Regions from separate parts of the Homo sapiens genome. Here regions 1, 2 and 4 are each linked to region 3. Evidence: fine-mapped expression QTL. A gene starts in region 3. Each other region holds a variant in brackets. All regions are shown on one strand. Distances are from middle to middle. Region 1 overlaps UNC5B (unc-5 netrin receptor B). Region 2 has its middle 29 kb from the start of UNC5B. Region 3 holds the start of UNC5B (unc-5 netrin receptor B). Region 4 overlaps UNC5B (unc-5 netrin receptor B).

Region 1 (5,124 bases), 37 kb before region 3:
CTCTATCCTGCTCAATGCAGAGACACAAAAGGGAGCCACCCTCACAGCCTGGTGCTCTATCACGCTTCCTGCTGCTCAGGCCCAAAGTTAGCCCATTTGATAGATGGCAAAACAGGCCCAGAGAGGGCAAGAGATCAGCCTAGAGTCACTGTGAATGATCAACTATATAGGGACTAGACCTGGAAAAATAAAATTCAAGATTCAGATACCACTGAAGAGCATGTTAACTGTCCCTTCACCCATTTTTAAAGCACAGGCATTTGGGAAAATATTGTAATATATATATGTGACACTTATTTTTAACCCAGATTTCAAATCACTTTTTTGTTGGAGGAGGTGAAGGGGAACATTACACAGCACTTCATTTACTTACAAAGATGTCACACCTGGTACACTTAAAGAGGCAAAGTCCTAGAAAAGCAAGGTCAATTTGAGAGGAAATAAAATCAATGACTTGAGGTATACATCTCCAGCCTGTGGGTTTTTTTCCTGGGGGAAAACAACTTAAAGAAAAATAAATATCCTCAATTCTTCCCTGTGTGTGCTTCAGCCTGTGGCACTGAGACTCTCACAGGAGAGGAATTATCTTGGTTCATTCATTCCCCTATGTGGCAAGGGTTTCAGATATGGACCGAGAAGACCCCTTCTGGGTCTTTGCAGGAACCATGTATACTCTGCAACTTTAATCACTTTGTCTGCAGGCATGAGCGAAACGATCTCCAGAGACAGCCAGCATTTAAAAGCAAATTTATTAAAGTAGACACCACCTTCCTGACACAATGGCACATGATGGATTCTTATTTCCCATTGTGGAGCAAATGGAAAATCGCTCTTGCAGATGGGGAGATAAACTGTGCTCTGGGGCCTGCAAGTCTGAAGTCCAGGGTGGCTGCCAGAAGAAAATCCAATTTGCCTTTAAATGCCATGTACAGCGTTTCTATTGTACCTACCACCTACTATATCAAAAGGTGAAAGTTTAAAAGTTTAAAAACCGCATGAAGACATACAAAGACTACAGCTGTAGGAACCAGTCTCAGAAAGACACATCATCAGTTTGTCTATCCAGGCTTTGAAGATTCTACCTTCCTTACCCTGACCTCTGACAGGGAAACTCCTTTGGAAGGAGTGAGGATTCTCTAACCATCCAAGCAAGCAGCGGGGTAACCTCTGACAGATTACCCACTCTGAGTCCTAGTTTCCATATCAATATATTTGGAAGACTGAAATAAAACAGGGATAGCAATACCTTGGTACAACTACTACCATGGCTGAGCCCATGACAGACATCACTAATTGACCCAACTGAGCCAGATCTGAGTCTCTGAATCAGCACATCTCCTGAAAGTCATCACTGTTTGTTCAGGATTGGTAGCAAGAGGAGACCTACTTGCCATCCCTGAACTCAGTGATCTCTAGAATTCCTTCCACCTCTAGCATGCTGTAAGTATTCCCCTCTTCAGTGTCTACTATGTATCTAGATCTATATTAGAATCTGTAGGAGACAGAAGTATACTCCCATAGATTATAAATTAGAAAAGTTATAATCTCTACCCCAAAGTGCTGGGAGCTAGGAGGGGGATAACCCTTCAGGAAACCACTGCAGCGCAGCAACAATACTTTAGAATTTAGCCCTGGATCTGTTTTGGCATGTGCCCAGCCTGAGAGCCACCACCTCCCCATCCCACACCACAGCAGACATCACTAATTAATGCTGACTTCTGTAAATGAGTCCAGATGTGGCCCTAGATTTCTCAACACTACACCCTGGGAAGTCACCCTCAAACTTTCAAAACAGCCACCTGAGATAAACCGTTTGCCACTGCTGCCCTAGATTTTGAGGTACAGGCTATACAGGTCTGGGGAGGTTGGAGCTATCAGGAAAAGATTCCTCGGAAAGTCAGGAATTAAGCTGGGACTTGAGGAAGCATCCACACACCCAAGCCAGGCCAGACAGATGAAGAAGAGAGGCCAAGGCTGGGAGAGGGGCAATGATGGGGACTTCCAGAAGGGGCCTAGCTCATGCAACCCGGTAGGAAGTATCCCATTTGGACCCAGCAGAACGGCCGGAGGCTCGGGGTCATCCCTAGGGCCGGGGGGAAAGGAGTTCTGATGTCTCCCCCACCGGCACTGCCCCTTCATTCAAGGCATCCTGGGGAGCAGGGCCTGGGGCACCACCTGGTAAGAGGCCTTCAGCAGGCAGGTGGCTCAGGCCCAGCGGGGTTTGCCATGGGCTCCCAGCACCTCTGCCCTGCTCAAGAGTGGTGAGATGCCTGGTGTCATGGCAGTCTCCTGAAGAGGCACAGAGATGGGCACCTGTGGCCACACACTTTCCACTTAGCTCCTCTGGGCTGTTCTCCTGAGCCTAAACATATGCTTGGGGAGAGGAACCACGTCCCCACCCCATCCCAACCAGAACCACAGCCTGAGCACTGGAGTGGGAAGAGGGAAATCTGGGCTCCAAAAGCCCTCATGGCACTGGGATACGTGGCCAGTGCCCCTAAGAGGGACCTTTCCAGAAGATTCTCTAAGTAACCTATCTGTTCCATGCCCTAACCTCCTGCAGCCTTGGTTTTTCCTTCTGTATAATGGACTACCCCACCAATCAGATATCTGCACTGCCCACTGCATTACCTGCCTTCTACCTGCTCTGTGCTTTGTGGCTGTGGGAGAGAGATGAGGGTGGTAGGAGGAGCCAGGGACCATGCCAGGGGACTCTCCTGGAGTTAGAAATGACAGCTGGAAAGCCACATTCTCAGAGATGGCTCTGGATCCCAAGGGCCTCACCTGTATAGCATGGTCTCGGCACAGAGGTGCAAGGTGCGTTCCACAGAACCAGGGGCCCAACCCAGCTTAACAAGCTTGGAATATACACTCACACATAGGGTTATCACTCTCTGTCACTTTTGTCCCCACCCCCTGGGGAGCCCTCAATCCTTGCAAGCTGGTGCTGGGGCAGCTGGGCCAAGTTTTGAGGGGCAGCCAGGAATTGGCAATCCCAAATGGGGTCCCTTTGGCAGCCTAGCTATGTCAGGGCAATAGCTTAGGCCATGCCAGGTTACTGGTGCCCAGGCTGCAGGCTCTGGAGGG[G/C]AGCATGCCTGAGAAGCCCAGGAGGACTTTGTAGCTGGTGCCAGCCCACAGCATGTGAGCACACTGGAGCTGTGGCCGTGGTCACGTTCTCATGAGTGCGTTCAACCCTGGGGTGAGGTGCCTGTGTAGGGCTGTGCAAAAAGGGACTGAAAGCTTGGACACAGAATGGGACATCTGAATGTCATGCTGGGGCCCAGTAGCCTCTTTGCCAGAGGGAGCTATGTTTGGGATCACCTGGCCAACAGATGCAAATACAAGCATATGTGTACATACTGCCCACAGGAAGGAGTGGGGTGCAGGTGGGAGTGGAGATGGCTGGTCTGACATGGTGTGTGTTTTACATCTATGAGTGTGTGTGTGTGTGTGTGTGTGTGTGTGTGAGAGAGAGAGAGAGAGAGACAGAGAGAGGGAGGAGCCTGTACCCACTGCTTCAGTGTGCCTGCCTGTAAGTGGGTGCATGTCAATGTTCTCTATGAGTTCAGGCATCCTCTGCTGTGTACCCCTGAGCATGTACACAGGTCTGTGTAAAAGTGCATGCCTAGGAGCCACTTTGAAAACAAAGACCTTGGGCTGCAAAGAAAAATGATGAGATTCTTAAGAACGGTGAGTGCAGCAGATATTAGCCGGTCTACTGGGGGTTGTTACACTAACCGTGTGTCCATTCTGCCTAATACATAAATTACTAATGTAAATTAAAGGATAATTGAAGCCCTTTAGGCCCAAATATTTAAATTATTCAACAGGCTGTCAGGAATAGGAGAAAAAGGAAGAGCTGAGTTTAACACTCAAAGAGAAAAGTGCCAACTCAGGGGAAGAAGGGGAAAGTGGGCCCCCCTTCTCCCTGCCTCCCGCTAGCTCATTCTGCTCTGGAGGTGCGGGGGGCTTTTCTCCAGGGCGCTGTGTGTATTGCCTCCCTCCTGGCCGTATAGGCTCCCAGGGCGTCCCTGCTTGGGAAAGTGCTGCCAAGGCCAGAGGCAAGGCTGCCTACCTGAGAGGTGGAAGCAAGTGGGGGGAGCTCAACTCCTCTTCTGCTCCTCAGAGACAGGACCCAGGGAGGCCCCAAGACTGCTATCAAAGAGCTGAGAGCTGGTACCAGGGACCTGGGTGCTTGGATGGTTCCCAGGGTGAAACCAGTATCTCCTTCCCTGAGATACCACAAGCCTGGAAAGGCAGTGCTAGAAGTCAGAGGCTTTGGCAAAGGGGAGAGAGAAGGGGGCAATTGAGTCCACTCCTACCCATTATACAGAGTAGGAAAGTAAAGGCCACATAGGAGGAGGTGAATCAGCAGCTTGCCAAAGGCAGATGCGGCATTCCCATCCTTTCTCCTTTTCCCTGAGGCCTTGAGAGGGTTTTCCAGGTCTCAAGGACACAAGTAAGACCCCCAAATCACTAGGGAGCCTTACTTCACTTGGGTCCTACATCCCAGGGCAAAGCAAAAAAGGAAGCATGTCTTCCCTTAGCCCCCGGTCTGATTTCTATAGAACTCACTGCCTGGTTTCTCTTTGTTCTATGGCACAGAACTCCCAACCATGCAAAGGTCCCAGTGTGGGTGCTGTGGCTCGCTCACATCCATGCTGGGGCCTGGGGACTGGGGGTGTACAGCTGAGGAAGGCCCAGACTCAGACTCCTGAAACAGTCCAACTCAGCTGGGGCCAGGGTGCCAGGTTAAAGTGCAGAGGGTCAGGTCTGGGAGCTCAGAAGGTGAGGCCTCCAGCTGACTGCAACGTCTGGGAGCCTGTCCAACAGCGAGGCCTCAGTGGGCAAGAAAGAAACAAGCCAGGCCTGCTGAATCACCTCTCCTCTCCGCATGTTAGCCAGGTAGGGGCAGGGGTGGAGGGGACTGCTGCAAGGCTGGGTAGATGGAACAGTGCCTTCCCTACAGCCATGGCCCTCTCTGTACACCCAGTGCCAATGGCACCTGCTCCAGGGAGCCTTCCCTGATGTTCTGGATGTTCACTCTGCAGCCCAAGATGCTGTCACCTCTGAGTGACCTCTCTGTTCTGACTCCATAGGCACCTTCAGGGCAGGGATAGGCCT
Region 2 (5,148 bases), 29 kb after region 3:
TGGGCTGGGAGTCAGGAAGCCTCAGCTGTGGGAGTTGTGTGGCTTCCTTCTGTGTCTTGTTTCCTCCTCTGTAAAATAGGAGTGCTGGACTAGACGGCTCATGAGCTCTTCCCAGCTTTAGGGCTAGTGTGGGAATGTATTGTTATTATTCCTAGTTCCAGACAGAGGCTGACGTCTAGGGGCTTGGCTTTCAGCAGGTGTCACAGGCTGGGCAGTTTGGGATGGTGGAAGGAAAGGCTTAGGGGTGCCCCTAAAGGGCAGGGCCACAAGCACAGGCTTCACTAGAGTCTGTAGGACACAGCCCACGGGGTCACTCTTTAATAGCGTCTCATCAGTGGACCACCTGGGTTCAGAGCCTCTTTGGTCTTTGGTAGTGAGGCCATCTGGGTAGGGTCTAAGCCAAGCTTTCCATGGCTAGACTTTGTCTATGGCAAATTGATGCTGCCAACACTAATGTCAGTGGTCGGACTGCCACCTGTTGAGCTTGTTATTTCACTATCATGTTGAAGCCTCACAACATCCCTGTGAGGTAGCATTATCCTTGCATAAGAGAGAAAACAAAAAAGTGAAAAAAAAAAAAAACTAAACTAAACTAAACCAGCTCACTAAGGCTCAGAGAGGTTAAGCAACTTGCCCAAGGTCACATAGACAACGAATGTGGAAGCCATAACTCAAATTTAAGTGTATGAAACTCCACATCTCAATCCCACACTACACTCCCCTGCTCCAAAGGGGGTATTATTATTTTGAGACAGAGTCTGGCTCTGTCGTCCAGGCTGGAATGCAGTGGCACAATCCCAGCTCACTGCAATTTCAGCCTCCCGGGTTCAAGTGATTCTCCTGCCTCAGCTTCCCAAGTAGCTGGGATTACAGGCATGTGCCGCCACACCCGGCTAATTTTTGTATTTTTAGTAGAGATGGGGTTTCACCATGTTGGCCAGGCTGGTCTCAAACTCCTGACCTCAGGTGATCCATCGTCCTTGGCCTCCCAAAGTGCTCGGACTGCAGGTGTGAGCCACTGTGCCTGGCACCAAAGTGGGTTTTAAAGGTTTCCTGGCATGTGGCTTTCATCAAATCTGGAGTGGTACTTGCTCCCATAGCTGCAGGGGAGAGGGAGCTGTGGAGTGAAACTTTCCCGCTGCTGTCTGCAGAGCTGGGATAAGCCACAGGGAACTTGGTGAGGTTCTCAGGTCACCCTTCCTGAGCTCCTCCTGACCACCCTGATGAAGGCTGAGCAGAACAAAGTACACGCATTATCTAGGGGGACTTTGAGGCCAGAGAGGAGCTCAGTCCTGCCGGTGGCAAAGCTGTGGACTGCTGGGGAAAAGCACAGCCCGGCATGGGGATCCTGGCTCTGCCCTTCTACAACTCCAGATCAGTGGCCCAGAGCCTCAGGTGCACCTCTTTTGCTGGGCTATGGGGCGAGTGCAGGCAGAGGCCATCGTGGAAGCACCTGGCTCCTCTTGAGCACTTGAGCATGTGTGTGACGAAAATAGGAGACACACTTCTTAATCACCACGCTGTTTCCCTGCTATCTTGGTTAGGGGACAGGGGCATTGCAGTTGCTACATTACCATGACCTGCACTATCTGATGCTACTGTAGATCGTTGTTGTGACTAAATTTAAAAAAGAAAAGCAGCCAAGTTGAGGCTGTGGTTCTAGACCCCCAGCAGAATTGAGGGTGTGGACATAGGGAAGTGGAGCATGGGAGGCTGGAGTGTGGGTCTGGGGCCTGACAGCCTTACCTGTACTCCTTGGCTCCATAGTTACCAGTGGGCCCATCCTTGGGGACAATAATTTCACCTAGGTAAAGCCAGTCCCTAAAGCTAGGGCTTAAAAGGTGGACTTGTCCCAAGCCAGGAACTAGAGGTGGGTGGGTAGGACGGGACCAGCAGCATGGGCTGCCCTGGGCTGAGAACCTGGGCGGAGTGGGGCAGTTCAGAGGCTCAGGGACTGAGGCTGAGATGGGGCTGGGAGCCAGGAATCACTTTGAAGGACACTTGTTATTTAAATTACTCCTTCATTTCTCATCACCCATCTTAGGCTCATCTCACCACTTTGCACCACCAATTTGATCAGAGCAATGTCTTCATGACCCTAGCAAGGGTCCAGTTCTTACCTAATTAGGGGGAACTGGTAAATTAGCACTGATGAGGCCCAGAGAGGTATCAGTATGTGTCCAGGTCACACAGCAAAATTGGGACTTGAATTCAGAAGAAGAAACTCCTCCTCATAACCCTCTACTCCACACCCCCCTACTCCGGTTCTCAGGTGATTCCCCTTAAAACGTGTGCAATTGCATCTTTCCAGATAGGCCTCATCTGGGAGGGGCCCCTGAGGGTCTGGCCTCCCCTCTCCACACCTGTGGCTGGGCCGCTCCTGAAATCATTATCTGGCTCTTTCCAATGTTTCATCTGTTTTCTATTTCACATCACCCCTGCTACCTCCTTCTCACATTTGAGCTTGGGATCATGAAAAACAGATGTGCTGACCCTACCTGTCCTTACGCTTTGCCCAGGTTTGGGACTTAACAGGAAGTGATCTTCTTCAAATGTTCTTCCAGTCACTTGATTCCTTGGTCCCTTAGCCCTGCCTGTCCAGCTGGGCTTATCAAAGGATACTAAGGAAAGAAAACAACAGTTACCTGAGGAATGTGAGCCTTTTCAAATTATTAGGCACAGCACTGGGCGCAGCGGCTCACGCAGCAGGTGGATCACTTGATGTCAGGTGTTCGAGACCAGCCTGACCAATATGGTGAAACCCCGTCTCTACTAAAAATACAAAAATTAGCTGGGCGTGGTGGTGTGCGCCTGTAGTCCCAGCTTCTCAGAAGGCTGAGACAGTAGAATTGCCTGAACCCAGGAGGCAGAGGTTGCAGTGAGCTGAGATCGCGCCACTGCACTCCAGCCTGGGCCACAGAGCGAGACTCAGTCTCAAAAAAACCAAATTATTAGGCCCAGAGAGGCACTAAAATGAGACAGCAACCATGCCCTACTTCCCCTGTTCATCTGTTGAAACTGCTTGCTGTTGCCCCAGGTAACTATGAATTAACCTAAAAATG[C/T]CTCACTGGACGCTACGTCCCACACTCTGTAGCTTAATGTATAGCCAGTCGCTAATCAAGTTATTTCTGTAAACTAACGAGAATTCCTGATAACTTTGTATCAGTCCGCTCCCTGTTCTCTTATTTTTTTGCCTTTAAAAACCTGCCTGTAAGGTGAACTGGAGCTCATAACCAAGCTTCCTTGGGTCTGAGTCTTCCAGGCAGCTGTCCTCACTTTGGCTCAAGTAAACTTTTTGAAATCACATTTTGTGCTTTAGCTTCTTCCTTTTACGTTGACCTTGCTTCTGAGTCCAGCTCTCACCTTTTCAAAGTGTGCTTCTGTACATTGTGTATTCCTGGGCAGGCAGGAATTTGGCCGCCGGGGCTGAGAGACGCTGACCTACTTGCCCAAGGCCACACAGAAATTGTCAATGGTTTTGAAGGGGCAGGACTCTGGGGCCCCCTTCCTTTCTTGCTGGTCCACCAATATACACCCCAAACCTGCATTTTCTAACAGAACGGGCTGCAAGGCCCAAGCGCTTTTCTTTTTGTCACATGGTGGAAGTAGAATCTAGGAGTAAGGGAAGAGGCAGGAGGAAGCAGAGGCTGCCATGGCTGGTACTCAGCTTTGAACATATCATATCCTTCCTTGGGGGCCTTCAATGGCTCCCTGTTAACCATGAAAAACAGCCTAGCACCTCAGTTTTGTAAGGAAGGTCCTTGGGGAAACTGGCTGAAGCCACCTTCCCACCTGCCTCTCACTCCTCGCCCGTCTCCAGCAGTCGCGTGGGGTGCTTTACCTTCCTTGGACCCCTGCCGGAGTTGCACTGCCTCTTCCGGGCTTTTGGAAGACTTTTTCCTCCCAATCTAGATCAATGGTTCTCCAGCCAACCAAGGGTTCTGCACAGAGAACCCCTTGATTCTGCTTCTATTGCCTTGGGCTGGAGCCTGGGCATCAGCATCTTGACCTGTGACACTTGGTAGCCGATAAACAGATAAATGATGAAAACAGACCCACCTCCCACAGGCTCACAGTCTACCTTAGATTGAGCCTCCCCGGGGTAGTAGAGAGTTTTAAAAGCTTGATTTTGCATCTCATTTAAATATTACCCCATATCGAAATATCTCATAGGCCACATACATATATATACCTGCTATGTACCCATGAACATGTTTTTTAAAAGTCAAAAAAATATATATCCCTCTGTCCCTGTGAAAGCTGGTGTGGGTGTTTTCCAGAGCTGGGGAGACCCCTTGCCCCACACCAGGTCTGGGGCTGGAAAGAACCCCAGGGGACCACAGGAGAGCCTCCCCAGGGCTCTCACCAGTGCACTCCCCACCCTGCATGGATCCTGATCACTGCTTCCCTGTCACGCCCCCACCAGGCTGCAAACTCTTCCAGAGCAAAGGGCTCCATCTTTTACCTCTACCTTTTAGCACCAAGCACAGTGCTTGACACTCAAATAGCACTCAATAATAAATGTTGCCCGAACTCATCAAAAATATGGTCCAGTCTCAGCACTCTGTCTGAGGCAAGACAAGATTCAAGGACGGCAAGTAACTGACAGTGTCCCCAAAGGTGTTGGTGGCAGAGCTGGGCCTAGACCCCAGCTCCTGGATTTCCAGGATGTGCTCCACACTCCCGCAACCTCTTCTGCCTTCCTTCTCCCACCTGCCTGGACCCTAATCCAGGAATCAGACAACCAGCACTGCCTTCCCATTCCCAAGAGACAGTAGGACTCCCTGAGTTTTGCTGAGGTCCTAGGGGACCCCAAAGCCCTTCAAAATCAATGCGGGCCACTCTCCTTAGCCAATCCCAAGGAATCAACCCTAAAGTACTAAAGCTATTCCCATGAGCCCAGCTCCGCCCATGCCTTCATTAAAGGGGCGGCACTGGCCCTTTCCACCTCCAGAGGCTCCAGAACAGTGGTTCTCAATGTGTGGGCTGCAAACTAGCAATAGTGGAACCACCTGGGAGCATGTTTGAAATGAAAATTCTCCAGGTCTAGCCCATACTTACTGATTCAGAAACTCTGGGGATGAGGCCCAGCAGTCTTGGTTTAACAAGCCCTCCAGGGTATTCTGATGCATGCCAAAGGTTTGAAAC
Region 3 (5,148 bases):
CCCCTCTCCAGGCTGGTGGGCAGGCAGCTACTGCCGCACTAAGTAATGAGCACAATTCCAACACCGCTTCTGCTCGCTGGTGAGAAATCAAAGCCGGGTATTAGAGGCCATTTCTGACTGGGCACCATTCGTGCCCAAATCCATCAAAGCCCTGGGCCTGGGGTTTCTTCTGGGGAAGGTGGGGGCTGGATGCTTTGTTAAGCAGGAAATGCAGGCCACCCCCAGCCTTCTTGGCCAAGCCCACCCACCCAGAGAACTATAGGCCAACCAGTCTTGTCTTTCTCCTACAGCAGCCCCTCATTCCTGGTAACCTAAGTATTTATTCCTGATCCCACTGTCCTGCTGGTACAAAAGCAGCTTCCCAAGACACAACCCTGCCCATGTGCCATTTACAGAGACTTCACCCTACCCTTCAATCATCTCCTCAAACCCCCTCCAACCAGAAACCAGCACCCCAACCAAGCACCTCCCACGTCTAACTGCACCCTTTAAAACAAGGTTGGACATTCAGCAGCCTGCCTTCCCCATCCCCATCATTACCTTCCAACTTCAAAACACTGCTTTAAATACCAGAGTCTGCCCAAATCATAATTAACTTGGATCAAATGGTTGAGTGTTGTAACTCTACTGCACAGGACTTGCACCAGAAAAAAAAAAAAAAGTGGGGAATGTGCTAAAGCCAAGCCCTCACTCCTGGCCGTGGGAATCACTAATTCCAGAATGAGGAATCTTTGGCTATGGAGGGGGGAAGGGCGGATGTCAACTTCGCAGCAGGAGGTAGGAGGTGGGGAGGGCTGCGTCATCTCGTCCACTTTCTGCTCCAGTTTTCCTGCTCCATTCTCAGCCTCAACTCAGAGAGGACTCCGTGCAGGAGGCCCCGTCCCCACCTGGCTCCGGAGCCGAGCCGCCCGGCAGCCGTGGCCAGCCCACTTGCTTGGGTTCGGGTACCAGAGAGAGGCTGGCTCCATTCAGTCCACAGCCTCCCCGAGAAGACGCAGCCCAGCCAGCGACGCCGGGTCCAGCTACAGGACGAGCGAGAAACGTATTCATCCACGGCGAGAGAGGAGGGTTAGGGACTTTATTTCGGAGCCCACCAGTTCGCTGAAGTCATCTTGGTGGGTCCAGAGCGGGCGCTGTACCAAGGAGAGCGCACCTAGTCTGTTCCCCGGACAGCGAGAATGTCAGTGACCAATTTAAAAGGAAACTCCGCAGGATCGCTAAGAACCCCTACCCGCATCCAACACACACACACACACACACACACACACACACACTCTCCAACACTCAGAAAATTAATAATAATAATAATAATAATAATAATAATAATTCTTCCAGACCTGCGGGCCCAGCGATCTCGGGGAAAGCTATGTGTGCAAGACTTAGCCCTCCCCGCTTCAGGAGCCCTGCAAGCCGGCCTGCCGAGGCTACCGAAGCGCTTCCTGTGTTCAGCAGGTCTTTTCGCTCTCTCCCTCTAGTCTGCAGATTGCTGTCCCTATAGCGCGTAAGAGCCTAGGCGAGCCGGGACCAGACTAGTAAGTTACCGGCGTACGGCAGCGAGCGCACACCTTGCTTATGTAGCCAATGTTCTTTTTCGGGGCGGATGCCAGGCGCGCGGAGAGCCGGGCGTCCCCAGGAGGCGGATCCTCCCGGAGACTCAGACCCTGACTCCTACACCCCTTCCAGGGAGAAGAAGGGATCCCTTTCAGGAGCGAGCAGGGACCTTTCAGCTTACTGTGAAGCCCCTTCCCTGCTCCCCGCTCCCGCGATGTGGATGCGCCATTGCCCACTTTGGGAGGCAGTAAAATCTACATTCTAACTTGGGCGCCCTTGCCGCTTTTCCTGCGCGCATCGATGCGACGAAAGACCACCTCAACTTCAGGACAGAGTGAGGCGCAAGGGTCCCCTAGCCCCGCGCCCCCAGACCCGATCGCTTCCTACCTGCTTGGCTCAGCCTCGGGTCCCAGCAGAGCAGCAGTGCCAGCAGCAGCGCGCCCCGAGCTCCGCTCCGGGCCCCCATGCTCCCGCGGCCTGGTTCGGGCGCCTCTCCCCCAGGGCTGTCTCCCTGGCCCCAGTCTCGCCGCCGCCGTCTCCGCCGCCGCCGCCTCCTCCTCGCCGTCCTCCCCGGCGCCCGGCAGCGCCAGCCCGTGCCTTCCGTGGGGGCAGCGGAAGCCACGCTGCGCGGAGGGCCGCCTGGCACTCGGAGCGCGGTGGGTGCCTGGCGCCGGCTCTCGAACGAGGCTCCGGCGCGCCCCTCTGGCTCCGGGTCTCTGAGCGCTCGCCTGGCTCCGGCGCTGTGCCTCCGAAGTTGCGCGACCGCTCAGTGGCGCTCGCAGCGGCGGCGCCGCGCAGTCCCAGCCCCAGTGCGCGCCTCTCGGAGCCCCGCGGCTGCGTGCGGCTCCGGCGCCCTAGCCGGCCCCAGCCGCCTGCCACAATGCCGAGCGCCGCCGCTCGCTCGCCGGAGTGAGTTCGCCAACCGAGGGGACCGCGCGCGGCCGGGGCGGGGCCTGGGCGACCGAGGGCGGAGCCGACAGGGGGACCTTGAGGGGGGATCCGACGGCCATCTGGGCGCGGCCGCGGCAGAGCTGGGGGACCCGGGGGGAGGGTCCTCGCGAGACGCTGGGCGCAGCGTTTTGAAAAACCCGGCCGCTGGAGAATGGCTGGACGTGGAGGCGGCCCAATTTTCGCTCCCCCAAATTAAGGAAATCTGGCTTTGCGCCTTCATTTGGCTTGGCCATGTCAGCTTTCTCCTCTGATTAAACATAGGACTCTCACTTTTGGCTCCCCTGTCTGTAGTATGCGCTCTGCCTTCCACATGTGGGGGTCTTTCCAAAAAAAAGGCTCCCAAAATGAGAACACCCAAGTCCTGGTTACGCGGGGGCTTACAGCGATATGAAGCTGGGTATAGATTAGGATCATCCTGGCTGGCTCTGCTTGTCTGTATGATCTCCGGCAGAACTGTTAACCAGACCCCTGGAAACCCCTCCAGCACTCTGATCCTGCGTTGTTGTAAACTAGCCTCCTACCTGACAGTGGGACAGCCATTTTTGGCTCAGTGTAAACTTGGACTCTGCCCCTTATTTACTGTGTGACCTTGAACAAGTTACTTAACAATTCTATTGCTCCCTTCATCATCATCTGTAAAATGGAGGAAAAGGATAACTATTTCATAAGGGGGTATAGAATTAAATTTTAAAACTTGTGTGGAAATTGCAGTGCAAGTGTCAATAATCTCTTTCCAAGATTCTCCCCTCCCAGCCAGTCTGATTCCAGGGGGAAAGTCCTGACCACCCAAAGGTGGTCCAAGGAGCACGTGGGGACAGGTGAGGTTTGAAGGATGGGCAGTGTCTTGGGATTGAAACCCAGAGAGATCAGAACGAGCGGATCAGCTAACATAGGCAAAGACCTTCCCTGTGCCAGGCACAGGGCTAAGCACTCTGTATGCATCATGTCAGTTAATTCTCACAACCCTCTGAAGTAAGCACCATTTACATCCCATTTTACAGATGAAGGACCTGAGGCACAGAGGTGTAAAGCCACCTGCCGGAGATCACACTGCTTGGAGTGACTGAGTGACTGAGCAAAGGGGATGGGGGAGATGGGATTGGAAAGAAACCCTCTAAACGGGGGAGCCTCACTTGAACACCTTCCCTGGGGCTGGATTGGGCTGTGCGAAGGGGACTGTCCTAGCTGTTTCCCCAGAGGTGAGGTGAAGGCAGGACTAGTACCCTCTCCACACACACTCCCCTCACAAGCCGGGGTCTTGGAGTATCTAGGGGAGGTCGTGCATGCCATCAGCACATCTCCCTAACCCTCTCTGACTGGGCACCCAGCATCAGGAGGGTGGCAACAGGTGGACTGGGACTCCCTGGGGGAAGAACTTCCATCAATTGAGAAAGGCTGCTGTGGGCAAAGGTAGGTTGCTTAGCTTGGCCTCTGACAGCCCTAGCAAGGGCAGTGGATGAGACAGTCAACAGCTCAGCACACCCAAACCAACTCCACCTTGCAAATACACATGCACACACACAACTACCCACCCATACACACCTGCAAAGGTACACACACGAAAACATACAACAAAGACAACAGGTGCAATGTTTCACCTCCCATAAACATCACACCTACAAATAGGCACCCGACTCCAGAGACACCCACATACCAAAGATGTATGCCTAAAAAAAGCAAACACACAGGCGCACACAACTAAAAACACAAATAGGCAGATGACTCCCAAGACAAATAGATATTTGGATACTTAACTACTGCCAGGAAACACATACAGGCACGCCTGTGCCAAGACCCACATCTGACGGTCATCCCCTGGATGCAGGCACATGGTCAAGGTTGTGCCTGTGCTGGAGAGCTCAGCAGGGACCTCAGCAGAGACGGGCAGCATGCAGAGACCACAGCATGTTCTCTCTCTCTCCCCAACCTCTTTCTCTCTCTCCTTCAGGCCAGTGGGGTATTGGAGATTTTTCTAAAAAGTTCCACCCCTTGGAACTTTGCTGTTTAGGTGGTAAAGTGTACCCAGCAGGCCCTTCTAGTCCAAGTATCAGGTTTCACGGCTTTAATTCCTGGGTGGAGAGAAGGGGGACTGGAGATGGGGGCAAGCAAAAGGAAGACATTACCCCCTCTCCTGCCAGTCCCTGCCCCACTTCCCTTCTCAGCCTAACCACTCTCTCAACTCTTGAAATATACTCTTGGGAGGTCCCGGGCCCTGCTCTCCCTCCAGGACTCCAGCATCAGGGCATGGGATTTTGCATGTTGGGAATCTCTCTGTAACTGCTCTGTGCCCCTGCTCCTGTACCAAGTCTCTGAGCCTTCTCTAGCCACCTGCAGCTGAGCAGTTGCAGATGTGGTTCCTCTCCAGCCCTGGCATCTCAAGAGTGCAGGCTGTCAGTTGAGGCCAGGCAAGGGGCTTCAGAGGGAGTCAGACTCCCCCTGAGCCATACCTTTCCCCGGGATGGGTGAAGAATGGGCAGGGTCCCTGCCTGGGGGATGACACATTAGGATAGCAGGATTAAGATTTGCCAGGGTGTTCCCAAACCGAGTGCCATGGGCCTCACAGCAAAGGCATCCTGCTGGGAGTTAAGCATGAGGACGAAGCAGTGAGTTGCTTGAAGTCAGGTGCCCTGTGTTCCCTGTTCCCCA
Region 4 (5,148 bases), 23 kb before region 3:
AAGGTGAGCATCAAATATTTCTTGAGACAGAATAAAGGACTTACAAAGTCCTAGTAAAGACCACTTCTGCTCCCAGTAAAACTACCTCCTTCCCGATCCTATAGAGGCCACAGGCTGGAGATGGAGGCAGGAGGCTTCCAATACGGACTTCACCGCACCTCCTTCACACTAGGTGCTGCAGGAACACCTTGCATAATAATAGTTAATGCACTCAGGATTGCCAGCTTTGTGCTGAGGACTTCCCGTGTATTTACTTATTGACGTCTCACTGCTCTTACCCCCACTTTACAGATGAGAGAACTGAGGTCTTAAGAGGTGACCCCAAGGGCACATGGTCAGTAAGAGGCAGAGCCGAGTTTCAGACCCAGGCTAACCAACTCCAAAAATGCCCAAGCACTGAGTGAGACGGCTCTCTCTCTAAAATCTCATTTAAACCTCATGGAGACGTTATGGGGTAGATTGCTATTAATTCCACTTTGTGGTTGAAGACGAGGCTCACATGGGCTAAACTGTCCAGGAACACGTGGTTTGGAAGCAGGGAGGGTAGTATTTGAACCCATGCTGTTGCCAGAGCTTTTCCACATAAACACGAGTCTTGGTGACCAGGCAAACAGGGGTCATTAGGGAACGTGCACTTGGTCCCCAGAGTGGGCCTCTGCTCACAGGCTCTGTGGCCTTTGCTATTCCACACCCAGCCTGGGATCCTAGCTACCCTCCGCCCAGGCAGGCCTGTTTGCCCACCACCTGTGCTTCCTGCCTCTTCTCCAAACCTCTGAATACCCTGGAGCCCCCATCTACACCTCCACCTCCTCCAGGAAGCCTTCCACATCCCAGCCGTGGAGCTCACTCCTCTGAGCTGGAGAAAATGTGGGCGTTCTCTTCAGGGGCATGCATCTTCTCTCATTCCTAAGTGGAATTTTGTGAGCTCCTTGGGGGTAGGTTCTGGGTCCCCTTGGAGCGAGGCACAGAGAAGGGAATGATAAATATGGGGGTTCACTGCTCTCAGGACCAGGGTCCCTCTGGCCTCTTGAGGGCTTCACTGGACCTCCCCATCCATTCTCCCAGAGGAGAAGCAGAGCAGACTTCCTTTGCACAGAGAGGAAACCAAGGCACAGCTAATGGCAAGAGCCAGGGAGTCTCCAGTGGGGGCTCGGGCAGGGAAGCCCAGCACCCATGAATGAGGAGGCCACTGCCGGTCAGTGTGGGGCGGGAGGGCCCTGGGTCCCAGCTCTGAGGAGCTCTGAGAAACGCTTTACGACTTTCTAAATGGGCCTCTGCTGACAGCTTAACAGCCAGCTCCTCCCTGCCCCGGCTTCATATTTACGAGCTGGCTCTGAAGGGGGGCTCAGGAATCCGGCCCACACCACCCGATCCTCAGCCCTCTGGCTCCAGGGCCAGGAAGCCATAAAAAATGATCTTGCATTGCTTCCCTTCCCCCACATGTTTTAGGTGAGGCAGGGCGGGCATGGCAAGGGATGCTGGGGGCAGGGAAGGTGTAGGGTCTTTCTCTAAGGCTACACAAGCACATTCTCACAGAGGGGAACTCAACTGCCCAGGCTTTGCCCAGTCCTGAGGTCCCTAGTCTGAGCTGTCAAGGGCTGGACATACTCATACTTATGGGGCACCTACTGTAAGCCAAGGTGTCACCTTCAATATCTCATTGAATCTTACAACAACCCTGAGGAGTTTGACAAAGTTTGGAAAGGTCTTTGGACTCAGATCTCCACTGTTCCCTCCTGCCCCGACCAGAAGGCCCCTTCAGTTTACAGTTGACGAGTGAGACCCAGAGATGGAAAGGAACTTGCCTAACGTCACACAGCGTATTAGTGGCAGAGTGTGGACCTGAACTAGGGCTCCCAGCTCCCAGGGCAGTAGGACCCATGCTGCAGGCTCCTGACATGCCAGTGGGCGAGGTGGGGATGATCCCTTTGCCTTCCACATGGGTCCCTCTGTCTATAGATGGCCCAGATGCGACCAGGTGCTCTCTAGGGCTCTCAGCGGCTTGGGCACTCTAAGGCTGGAATTCCACAATGGTGCCTGGTCTGAAGCCCAGTTGGTGGGGAGCTGCCCTTCCTTTTCAGGTTGAGGCCAAGAGGCCACACCAGCCCTGGCCATTCTCTAAGCTCAGTCCTCAGGGCTGGAGGCTGGGCTCCGGGAACCCCCTAGGACCCCCCTACCAGTCCCTAAGTGTCCTCCCACCGTCTGGCCTGGGAAGGGCCAATGTCTCCCACAGGATGTGGCCGTCTGGCTGGCTGAAGCCTCTACCACATCCCCTCTGGGTGCTCTCCAGGCCCAAGGCTGAGGAACGCTGACCACGGAAGGAACCCCACCCTCTGTCCCCATCCCAGCCCACGCTGGC[A/G]CAACCTCCAGTCCACATACCCTCTTCTTCCCGCTGAAGTGGGTCAGTCCCACCCAGGGAAACCAGTCCTCAGCTCTCTGCTGAGTTCAGGGCTCTGGCTACAGTGGGGGCTCAGCAAATGACCATCAAGCCCCCAGAGGGGTTCAGAAGGGCTGGTGGCTGCAGGCCTGTTAGTCCCACCCCTCCTGTCTTTCTCTGTGGTCTGGGCCCCTTCCCTGGTGGCTCCCCTAGCGAGGGGCTGTCTGCAGATAATCAGGGAACAGATTTGGAAAGAAGGAGGAAAAAAAGCACTCCGGCGCCAGACAGGATCCTTATCTTCTGGGGCGGGATGTCTGTCAGAGGCAGAGGCAGAGGCAGAGGCAGAGTCAGAGGCAGCGGCAGCGAGTCCTGCAATAGGGGCCCGGCATTGCAGCCAGGCCGGGGGAGGAGGGGCCCCCCTGGGCGCTGGGGGTGGGAAGGGCTGGCCTCTCCTTCTGGGCCAGGAGACCAGTGGGAATCTATCTGGCCTGCTGGGGAGGGGATCTGGATGCCAAATCCTGTCCCCTCAACCCAGCTTTTAGGATGAGTCTCCCTGATGTGTTCAGAATGACCCTGGGACCTCTGCAAATAGAGCAGAGGAAGAGAGGCCCAGGTTTCCAAGTCTCCCAAGTTCCTAACAAGGCAGCAGGGCCCCCAGACCCAGCAGCCTGGAACTGGCTGGGGAACTGTCTTAGCCACAAGACTCTGGCCAAGTATTCTAGCTGCATCTAGGTGCTCTCACCTGTAGAATGGGGATGAAACCCCACACGCCTCTTGCACTGAGCTATTAGGCTTCTCCCCAGGGATTCCATCTAGAAAGTGCCTTGCAAAGGGAAGGTGTGTTCTGCCTGGGGCTTTGAGCTTCCCACCCCAGGGGCTCCCTGCTGGTTCTCACACAGCTTGACAGACCAAAGGAAGGTCATACAAGGGGCTTTGCTTCTTATGCTGGTCCCCAGAATACTTTTCAGTGAAACCCCACAACATGGTGAAGGTCCTTTTCATAGAGCAGAGAGCAGGTTTTCCGATGGGGTACTGTTTCCCCAGGGCAGTCCATAAACCTTGGGACCAAGAAGCTTCGATTCCCTGGCTTGGACTTCTCTGGGCCAGGCCTGAATCTCAAGAATGAAGCCTCATCTCCGTGAGGGCCCCAGCAAAAGCCCCTGGAGGGGGCGGTGTCAAGTGCGGGCCAAGGGCACAGGCCCTAATCAGGCTCCAAATCCAGGCTCTTTTGCTGCTTCCTGGCTGTGTGACCCTGGGCAAGTGTCCTTATCTCCGCCCCCCACCCCCGAGGTTAATTTCCTCATCTATAAAATGAGGAAGATATCTCTTCAGTGCTAACATTTTGTAACTTCACACTTGACCTAACCGGCTCTGCCCCTGAGAAACTTGAACCGTAAAAAGAAGGGAGCCATATAACACATATAACTGTACTTGCACACTCATCAGGCAGAGAAGCATCAAATCAAGTGTGCCTGTGTGGCCTGGAGCACCCTGGGACCAGGTTCCTTTGTGGACCCTGTTTCTAATCTCCTGGCGGCCTCAGCCAAGAGCAGTTAGAGTGGGCTGGCCTCCTGCAGGAGTTGGACCAGTTCATCTCCCAGGGATGGGCTGCAGGAGGAAATGCCAGCAAGGGTCCTGACAAAGAAGGAAAGGCTTCTGTCTGGTGCTGGGGATTAAAGGCACACTCCCCTGTGCCCCACCTCCAGTTCCCTGTGCCCCACCCCAGCCCCACCAGAACCTGGCTGGCCTGTCTCCCAGCTGCCATCTGTAGGGGTTGGTCCTCATTAACTGCTGTGGCAGCTGAGGGGCTGGGAGAGGGAGATGCAGGCTGCAGAGCTAGAAACTAAAGCCAGGCTGGGACGGTGGCCACCTCTGGAGCTAGAGTGATGGACCGTGGAGTGGGGAGGCAGAGGGAAGGGGGAGACAAGGGAGTATAGGGACGGGTGACAGGCTTGGCCAGTGGGAGAGGCAAAGGTGAGAGCTGGCTGAAGCCGCCAGCATCTTCCGGGCTGTTATTCTGGGCAACATTTTATTTATTCAGAGGCTAGGGATGCGGCTCAGCATTGGTTGGCTCAATATTTATTACAAGTGCATTGACCTTGTACTGTGGACCCCGTGATGGGGCCACCTCAGGACCCCGGGATGGGGCCACCTCAGGATCCTCATCTCCTCGGTGCTAGGACACACTTGAAAACCTGCAACGAAAAGCCGAGGGGTCCTACCTTCCTGGAAGACCACCCAGTCCAACTCTTGCTTTACCTTTGGGAAAATTGAGGTCTGAGGCAGAAACAACCTTGCTCAAGGTCACAGGGCACACTGGTCCTTGATCCCTGTTCTCTTGGCATTTAGGCCATCAGAATGGACAAGTGCTGTGGAAGTAGAAATACTGCAGACCACATTCAGAGGGACAGCGACCTGCCCACAAGTCCCCCATCAGGTGCAGACACAGCTGGCAGAAATCCTGGAGTAAGGTCGCAGCTTTGTGTACAAGGCACTCAAGCTCCCTGAGCTTTGGTTTCTTCCTCTCCACGAGCAAGGTAATCATGCCCATCTCACAGAGTGGTTGGGAGGACTGCATGAGAACACCCTGGAAACTGTCAAGCCCCATCCTACTGGAATTGGTTTATTCACTGACATGCTGCATGGCAGGCTGTGCTGGGAAGTGAGGCAGCATGGCCATGGGGGACTGGCATCCATCCATGGCCCCTAAACCCCTTCCTTATCACAGCTACCAAGGCTAGGCAGGCGGCAACTAATAAATCGGCAGTAAG

What was found. PIP is the estimated chance that this variant, and not a neighbour inherited with it, causes the effect.
Region 1: its variant is fine-mapped to the expression of UNC5B in tibial artery (GTEx, PIP above 0.99).
Region 2: its variant is fine-mapped to the expression of UNC5B in whole blood (INTERVAL, PIP 0.95).
Region 4: its variant is fine-mapped to the expression of UNC5B in whole blood (INTERVAL, PIP above 0.99). The same link has a PIP of 0.9 or more in T cells, blood mononuclear cells and monocytes.

The regions. Positions count from the first base shown.
Region 1 is chr10:71,247,211-71,252,334 of GRCh38, reverse strand. All of the region lies in intron 1 of UNC5B (unc-5 netrin receptor B), which reads right to left. It overlaps LOC112268061 (a long non-coding RNA gene), which reads right to left. Exons shown (of 2, transcript XR_002957083.2): 2 at 1-4,248. Among named protein-coding and RNA genes, the nearest start is that of UNC5B-AS1, 32 kb to the right of the region's middle. RefSeq lists an enhancer at 4,743-5,124. The variant G/C (reference allele first, on the strand shown) is at 3,088.
Region 2 is chr10:71,180,735-71,185,882 of GRCh38, reverse strand. No RefSeq gene overlaps it. Among named protein-coding and RNA genes, the nearest start is that of UNC5B, 29 kb to the left of the region's middle. The variant C/T (reference allele first, on the strand shown) is at 3,063.
Region 3 is chr10:71,209,855-71,215,002 of GRCh38, reverse strand. It overlaps UNC5B (unc-5 netrin receptor B), which reads right to left and starts at 2,433. Exons shown (of 17, transcript NM_170744.5): 1 at 1,939-2,433. The coding sequence starts at 2,017. RefSeq lists a silencer at 2,273-2,532 and an enhancer at 2,377-2,671.
Region 4 is chr10:71,232,668-71,237,815 of GRCh38, reverse strand. All of the region lies in intron 1 of UNC5B (unc-5 netrin receptor B), which reads right to left. LOC112268061 (a long non-coding RNA gene) reads right to left here. Exons shown (of 2, transcript XR_002957083.2): 1 at 1-5,148. Among named protein-coding and RNA genes, the nearest start is that of UNC5B-AS1, 17 kb to the right of the region's middle. RefSeq lists enhancers at 248-994, 995-1,742, 1,751-2,502, 4,011-4,764, 4,810-5,148. The variant A/G (reference allele first, on the strand shown) is at 2,360.